2 linked regions of the Homo sapiens genome follow. The protein of the gene in region 1 interacts with the protein of each later gene in a pairwise test. Each region holds a gene or a part of one and is shown in the gene's direction. Other genes may lie near its edges.

Evidence for each region. The genes of interacting proteins can lie anywhere in the genome.
Region 2: the proteins of LPIN1 (region 1) and FLNA interact in binary tests that used the Homo sapiens proteins (3 or more experiments, as listed by UniProt).

What each region holds. Positions count from the first base shown.
Region 1 is NC_000002.12:11,770,560-11,774,210, forward strand, and holds part of LPIN1 (phosphatidate phosphatase LPIN1), read left to right. Parts: intron 1-812; coding exon 813-1,120; intron 1,121-3,060; coding exon 3,061-3,186; intron 3,187-3,651. UniProt on the Homo sapiens protein: Acts as a magnesium-dependent phosphatidate phosphatase enzyme which catalyzes the conversion of phosphatidic acid to diacylglycerol during triglyceride, phosphatidylcholine and phosphatidylethanolamine biosynthesis and therefore controls the metabolism of fatty acids at different levels.
Region 2 is NC_000023.11:154,357,635-154,361,285, reverse strand, and holds part of FLNA (filamin-A), read left to right. Parts: intron 1-698; coding exon 699-1,296; intron 1,297-1,380; coding exon 1,381-1,554; intron 1,555-1,639; coding exon 1,640-1,802; intron 1,803-1,879; coding exon 1,880-2,040; intron 2,041-2,131; coding exon 2,132-2,302; intron 2,303-2,717; coding exon 2,718-2,841; intron 2,842-2,930; coding exon 2,931-3,087; intron 3,088-3,651. UniProt on the Homo sapiens protein: Promotes orthogonal branching of actin filaments and links actin filaments to membrane glycoproteins. Anchors various transmembrane proteins to the actin cytoskeleton and serves as a scaffold for a wide range of cytoplasmic signaling proteins.

The sequences.
Region 1 (3,651 bases):
AGACATTCTATTTCAGCATGTCTGATGCTCTCCAAACCTATTTGAATGATCAGCAGCACACGTTTATTTATCCCCTCTGTTTTATGTATATTCTTATTGTCAACGAGTTTCTCATACAAAATGAGGCATTCATTAATAAAATGATTACTAGAGTTTTATAAAAACTGCTGAATCATTACAAACAACTACTAAATGGACAGGTTGTGTTTTTTCCTTTTGTCTTTAAGGAGAGGATCAGTATCTACTTCCTCGATGTTCAGGGCCCTCCTTGGGCCCTGGTGCAGGCAGGTTCTTGGGCGGGGCTATCGGTTGTTTTACGTGTTTTTGGTTTTTAGATGGTTATTATCTTAATTCATTGCATATAAAAAATACACAATACACATTCTCTGTCTTTCTCTCACACCCACCCATGCACACCCACATCTACACAGAAGTGCAAGAGTGCATCCAATTCCCAGCATAATATGGTGAGTCAAAGCCCATTTTTTTCCTCTGTGCTCTGGGTATTACAGCCAAAGTTGAATTTTGGGGGCTTGAGATCACTGAGAATTACCTCCCATTGTTAAAATTACATAAATGCAGGATTGAGTACAAAGTGGCATTCAATACATTGTTGGCTTTCTGATCTTCTACCAGATTGGGCAGCCACATCTCCAGGTCACCATGGCTGTGGCCTCTAGCTGGGCCATCTGCTGTGGCCCTCCCCAGGAGGTGCTTGGCCTCTGAAGTGAATCCTGGAGGCCTCTGGCAAGGCCCTGCTTCTTATACCTGAATTAACGAGGCTCTTTTTAGAAAATGTGTTCTTTTCTTAGGAAGTTATCCCTATGCACCTGGCCACCTCCCCCATCCTGTCAGAAGGAGCTTCGAGAATGGAATGCCAGCTGAAAAGGGGCTCTGTGGACAGGATGAGAGGCCTGGACCCCAGCACGCCAGCCCAAGTGATCGCTCCCAGCGAGACGCCGTCAAGCAGCTCTGTAGTAAAGAAGAGAAGAAAAAGGAGGAGAAAGTCACAGCTGGACAGCCTGAAGAGAGATGACAACATGAACACATCTGAGGATGAGGACATGTTCCCCATCGAGATGAGCTCGGATGAGGCCATGGAGCTGCTGGAGAGCAGCAGGTAATAACTGTCCAGGGTGGAGGGGCTGTGCCAGAATCAGACAGTTAACTGTTCAAGATTATTTTTATGAACTTTTCCCCCATAATTCCTTATTCTTTTATGTGTTTTAGACCAGTGGTCCCCAACCTTTTTGGCACTAGGGACCAGTTTTGTGGAAGACAGTGTTTCCATGGACCAGGGGTGGATGGTTTTAGGAGGACTCAAGCATATTACATTTATTGTGCTCTTTATTTCCATTACTATTACATTGTAATATATAATGAAATACTTATACAACTCGCCATCATGTAGAATCAGTGGGAGCCCTGAGCTTGTTTTCCTGCAACTAGACGGTCCCATCTTGGGGGTGATGGGTGACAGATCATCAGGCATTAGATTCTCACAAGGAGTGCGCAGCCCAGATCCCTCACATGTGCAGTTCACAACAGGGTTCGTGCTCCTGTGAGAATCTGATGCTGCCACTCATCTGGCAGGAGGAGGAGCTTAGGTGGTAATGTGAGGGATGGGGAGCGACTGCAAACACAGATGAAGCTTTGCCAGCTTGCCCGCCGCTCACCTCCTGCCATGTGGCCCAGTTTCTAACAGGGGCATGGACCCCAGGGGTTGGGGACCCCTATTTTAGGCTGAATTTTGGAATCATGTGGACCCAATCCTAGAGTGGTATAAAGATTTGCTGTGCTGTAGCCAAGAGACAGTTGGTGATGCCAAACCTCCTTGGCTGATCGCTTTAGCAGCCTGGAATGGAGTCAAGAAACAGGAACTGAGCAAATTAATAGTTCATGACCAAACCCATTTTCTTGGAACCTATTTATTCTTATTTGAGCACCAACGATGCACAACTGGGCTGATTTATAGGCAAGGGCTGATTTCAGGCTTAAAAGTGAATGAAGAAAATGCTGTTTTCTCTATAAGCCAACTTTTTCCTTTTTAATTTTGACTTAGGTCCAAAGTTTAATGGAAATTTTGTTTCCTTTTTCTTTGCTTTTAACAGTGTGGTGAAATTCTGTTTGTATGTATTACTATTTTGGTGAAAAATGCCAGTTTTAAAAGATAAAATTCATTTTGAAGGATATTTGATGTTTCAGATTTTTACATAATTCGGTATAATTTTTGATAATTTTGTTAACATAAAGAAGGGATAAGGGGAATCAGGAGTATCTTCCTGTGTCATTATTTGGAATAAAATATATCTTTTTTCGTGGTGAAAAATAAATGTCAACTGGCAACGAATATTGCTTTTCCCAACTACAGCCTCTATCTAACCTGTGACAGGCTTAGAACCAGCGTCATTGGGCTTCTTATAATTGCCTTCTCTGCATGGCTGTTAAGTACAAAATTTAGTGGTAGGTGTTCCAGGTAACATCAACATATAGACAGATGGCCTCTGCATGATTGAAATTGTGAATTGTATTTAGTAGTGAGTGTGCTTATACCTGAAACGAGGTCATTTGCAGTTATTCTGTAATCGTAAGGCATGTTTGGTTGATGCCATTTATTTCTTCTGCTAGACAAAATGTGATCAGCGTATGGTCATTGAGTTATTCAGCAGTTCTGCCTGTACCTGGCAGGGGTTTTATACCGCCCTGGGGCCGGTTTGGGGCCACTCTACCTCCCAGGCTTTTGGAACATGACCGTGTAGGGTAGCAGGAGGTGGCACGATGGGAGGATCCAGCAGTGTGATCACTGCATGTGTGTCTGAGTCCAAATGCTGAAACAAAATCATTTTACAATTAGAATTCGGCCAAAGCATTAGCACATAGACACGTTTATGGATGCCGGTATCTCACTTTTTCCCCCTCCACTGCCTGGAACAGATCTGGGTGTTTAAAGAGATCATGTTAATTACAAAGCACTTAGAGCTAATCAAGAAAAAATTGGAACTTGATTATGAATCTATCATTAAGAATTCTTTGACTTTAATCTTTTTTTTTTTCCTCCAGAACTCTTCCTAATGATATACCTCCATTCCAAGATGATATTCCTGAGGAAAACCTCTCCCTGGCTGTGATTTACCCTCAGTCAGCCTCATACCCTAATTCGGATAGAGAGTGGTCACCCACTCCCAGGTAAGCTGTTCCCTGTTCCCCTGGCCCAGTGCAGAGGCTTAGAAGTCAGTGATAGGAAGCAATTCTAAGAAAAGAATGAAATAGAAATGAAAAGTGAAAATAATTAGGACCAGGAAAAACACGGTGTAGAGTCGGAGGTACAGATTAGGATCAAACACAGAACATGTTCAGATCATACACTTATATCTGGTGTCAGAATCCATCTGCAGATATGGCTGTTAGCTCCCTGGAGGTGAACTTGAAAGGAAAAACATGTAAATTACATCATGCTAATTGTTAATAGGAGAAAACACAGTGGCAGAGCCTTTCTTGATACTTAGCCCTAAGTAAAATTCAAAAACAGACGTTGCTTCAGGAGCTGCTGAGGTCGTTCAGGGCTATTAGAATGGTGCCTCCGCCACACTTAATCCATTCTGCCGAATTCAAGAATATTTATTTCCCTGAAATGAACTCACAAGTTGCCCT
Region 2 (3,651 bases), on another chromosome or scaffold:
TAAGGGTAGAACCCACTGTGCTCTCTGAGGGCCCCAAAGGTACCCCATCTTCTCCAGACCTGCCCTAAATCCTTTTTTTTTTTTTTTTTTCCTGAGACAGACTGTCAACCTTGACCCTGTTTAAGTGAGAGTAAAGGGGAGGAGGGAAATAGAAACCCACAAAAAGTCATCAGGGTTGAAGAATTTCTTTTTTTTTTTTTTCTTTCTTTTTTTTTTTTTTTTTTTTTTTTTTTTTTTTTGAGAAAGAGTCTCACTCTGTCGCCCAGGCTGGAGTGCAGTGGCGCGATATTGGCTCACGGCACCCTCCGCCTCCTGGCTTCAAGCAATACTCCTGCCTCAGCCTCCCAAGTAGCTGGGATTACAGGTGCCCGCCACCATGCCCAGCTAATTTTGGTAATTTTAGTAGAGACGAGATTTCACCATGTTGGCCAGGCTGTTCTCAAACTCCTGACCTCAGGTGATCCACCCACCTTGGCCTCCCAAAGGGCTGAGATTACAGGCGTGAGTGACCGCGCCCTGCCCTCCTTTTTGTCCTTATGACTGATGGATGGCCCATCTGGCAGGCAGCCTGGGCCCGCCCGTGTCCCTGTTTGGTGAGGGCAGGAAGCCAGGGCAAGGGGAGGCAGGTGGAAAGTCAAGCAGGAGGTCTGGGATCGGGGCATAGTGTGGCCTTGGCTCCTGACCCCTTCTTCCCTCAGGTGAAGGCGTTTGGGCCGGGGCTGCAGGGAGGCAGTGCGGGCTCCCCCGCCCGCTTCACCATCGACACCAAGGGCGCCGGCACAGGTGGCCTGGGCCTGACGGTGGAGGGCCCCTGTGAGGCGCAGCTCGAGTGCTTGGACAATGGGGATGGCACATGTTCCGTGTCCTACGTGCCCACCGAGCCCGGGGACTACAACATCAACATCCTCTTCGCTGACACCCACATCCCTGGCTCCCCATTCAAGGCCCACGTGGTTCCCTGCTTTGACGCATCCAAAGTCAAGTGCTCAGGCCCCGGGCTGGAGCGGGCCACCGCTGGGGAGGTGGGCCAATTCCAAGTGGACTGCTCGAGCGCGGGCAGCGCGGAGCTGACCATTGAGATCTGCTCGGAGGCGGGGCTTCCGGCCGAGGTGTACATCCAGGACCACGGTGATGGCACGCACACCATTACCTACATTCCCCTCTGCCCCGGGGCCTACACCGTCACCATCAAGTACGGCGGCCAGCCCGTGCCCAACTTCCCCAGCAAGCTGCAGGTGGAACCTGCGGTGGACACTTCCGGTGTCCAGTGCTATGGGCCTGGTATTGAGGGCCAGGGTGAGTTGCCCTGCCGTGGGGTATGTGACGGGGGACAGGGACCAGAACCCCCGAGCCCCAAGCCTCCTCTCTGTGCCTTTGCAGGTGTCTTCCGTGAGGCCACCACTGAGTTCAGTGTGGACGCCCGGGCTCTGACACAGACCGGAGGGCCGCACGTCAAGGCCCGTGTGGCCAACCCCTCAGGCAACCTGACGGAGACCTACGTTCAGGACCGTGGCGATGGCATGTACAAAGTGGAGTACACGCCTTACGAGGAGGGTGCGTGCTGGGGACTCCCACAGGCTGGCAGACGGGGTGGGTGGGGTGGCCCGGGCTCCTCCTGACCTGGCCTGCACTCCTCCAGGACTGCACTCCGTGGACGTGACCTATGACGGCAGTCCCGTGCCCAGCAGCCCCTTCCAGGTGCCCGTGACCGAGGGCTGCGACCCCTCCCGGGTGCGTGTCCACGGGCCAGGCATCCAAAGTGGCACCACCAACAAGCCCAACAAGTTCACTGTGGAGACCAGGTAAGGGAGCCCCCAGGAGCCCGTGTGGCTGGTGGGCCTGGGAACCCCAGGAATGACCGGCTGTCTGTTTGGACCAGGGGAGCTGGCACGGGCGGCCTGGGCCTGGCTGTAGAGGGCCCCTCCGAGGCCAAGATGTCCTGCATGGATAACAAGGACGGCAGCTGCTCGGTCGAGTACATCCCTTATGAGGCTGGCACCTACAGCCTCAACGTCACCTATGGTGGCCATCAAGTGCCAGGTGAGGAGGTGGCGGCCAGGGCAGGGCTGGGACTGTCTGCTCGTCCCCACCCTGTCTCATACAGCCGCCATCCCTTTGCCCCAACCCTCAGGCAGTCCTTTCAAGGTCCCTGTGCATGATGTGACAGATGCGTCCAAGGTCAAGTGCTCTGGGCCCGGCCTGAGCCCAGGCATGGTTCGTGCCAACCTCCCTCAGTCCTTCCAGGTGGACACAAGCAAGGCTGGTGTGGCCCCATTGCAGGTCAAAGTGCAAGGGCCCAAAGGTGAGTGTTTGCATGCCTGGAGCCAGGGGTCAGGAGGGCAGTGTCCTGTTTGAGGGCCGGGAAAGGAAACTGGAGGCCCAAAGTGAGGACCAGAGTGCAGAGGTGGTGCAAGTGTGTAGGTGTTTTTGGAAGAGCCTCAGGTGACAGTGCAGCCAGGTGGGGGACTTGGAGGAGGTAGAGCAGATGGGACTGGTCACTGAGCAGATGTGGCAGGAAGGCAGGCAGGCAAGGGTCCCAGCTGGCACCCAGATGGGTGTCTTTCGTGCCAGAGGGGGTCAAGGCCATTCCCAGGGTCGGGTGGATGAGGATAAAGCGAGGTCTAGGCCTGGGGCTGGGTCCTGGCCGTCCAGTGTGGTGGGGTAGGAATGGAGGCCCAGGAGACTAGCTGATGCTCTGTCCCTGGGGCTGGGGCCAGGCCTGGTGGAGCCAGTGGACGTGGTAGACAACGCTGATGGCACCCAGACCGTCAATTATGTGCCCAGCCGAGAAGGGCCCTACAGCATCTCAGTACTGTATGGAGATGAAGAGGTACCCCGGAGGTAAGAGGCAGGGCCTGCTGCCTGTGGGGAGTGGCCCAGGCTGGATGCTGAGAACCTGTCTGACTGCTCACAACACCAATCCCTCACAGCCCCTTCAAGGTCAAGGTGCTGCCTACTCATGATGCCAGCAAGGTGAAGGCCAGTGGCCCCGGGCTCAACACCACTGGCGTGCCTGCCAGCCTGCCCGTGGAGTTCACCATCGATGCAAAGGACGCCGGGGAGGGCCTGCTGGCTGTCCAGATCACGGTGAGCTCCGGGCACAGGCAGGGGAGGCAGGGGGGCCTGGGCGGCTGGAGTGTGGGCTGCGGGTGGCTGGTGTCTGATCTCCCTGCGGAGCTGCACCAAGGAGGGCAGGGAAGGACAGGGCCCCTGTCTTTGGTTTGCTAAGGTTGTGACTACCTTAGGATGGTGGTGACAGGCACAGGCTTCCCCAGACGTGCACTTGCTGCTAACTTTGAGCACGTCACCAAAGCCTTCTGTGCCTCAGTTTCCCCACCTGTAATATTCTCATGGGGCAGGTATAGGATAGAAGCTTGAGATCACCCCGGTGAGCTCCTCCTAGTGCTGGCCAGGCCCTGGGGCTGAGGATGGGTGCCAAGCTGGCTGGCCGCGCCTGTTGTCATGTGGGAAGTGTGGGATGTTTTAGTCTCCATTCTGGACTCTGCCAGGTGCAGGCAGCCCTTTTGGGCCATAGCAGTTAAGATGCCTGAGGCCCAGAGACTGTCCCTGTAGCAGCAGCGCTGGGCACTCTGGGAGCGCCTGAGGCAGGCCCGGGGCTACTCGGGCTTGGGCCAACTGCCTCCCCTGCCT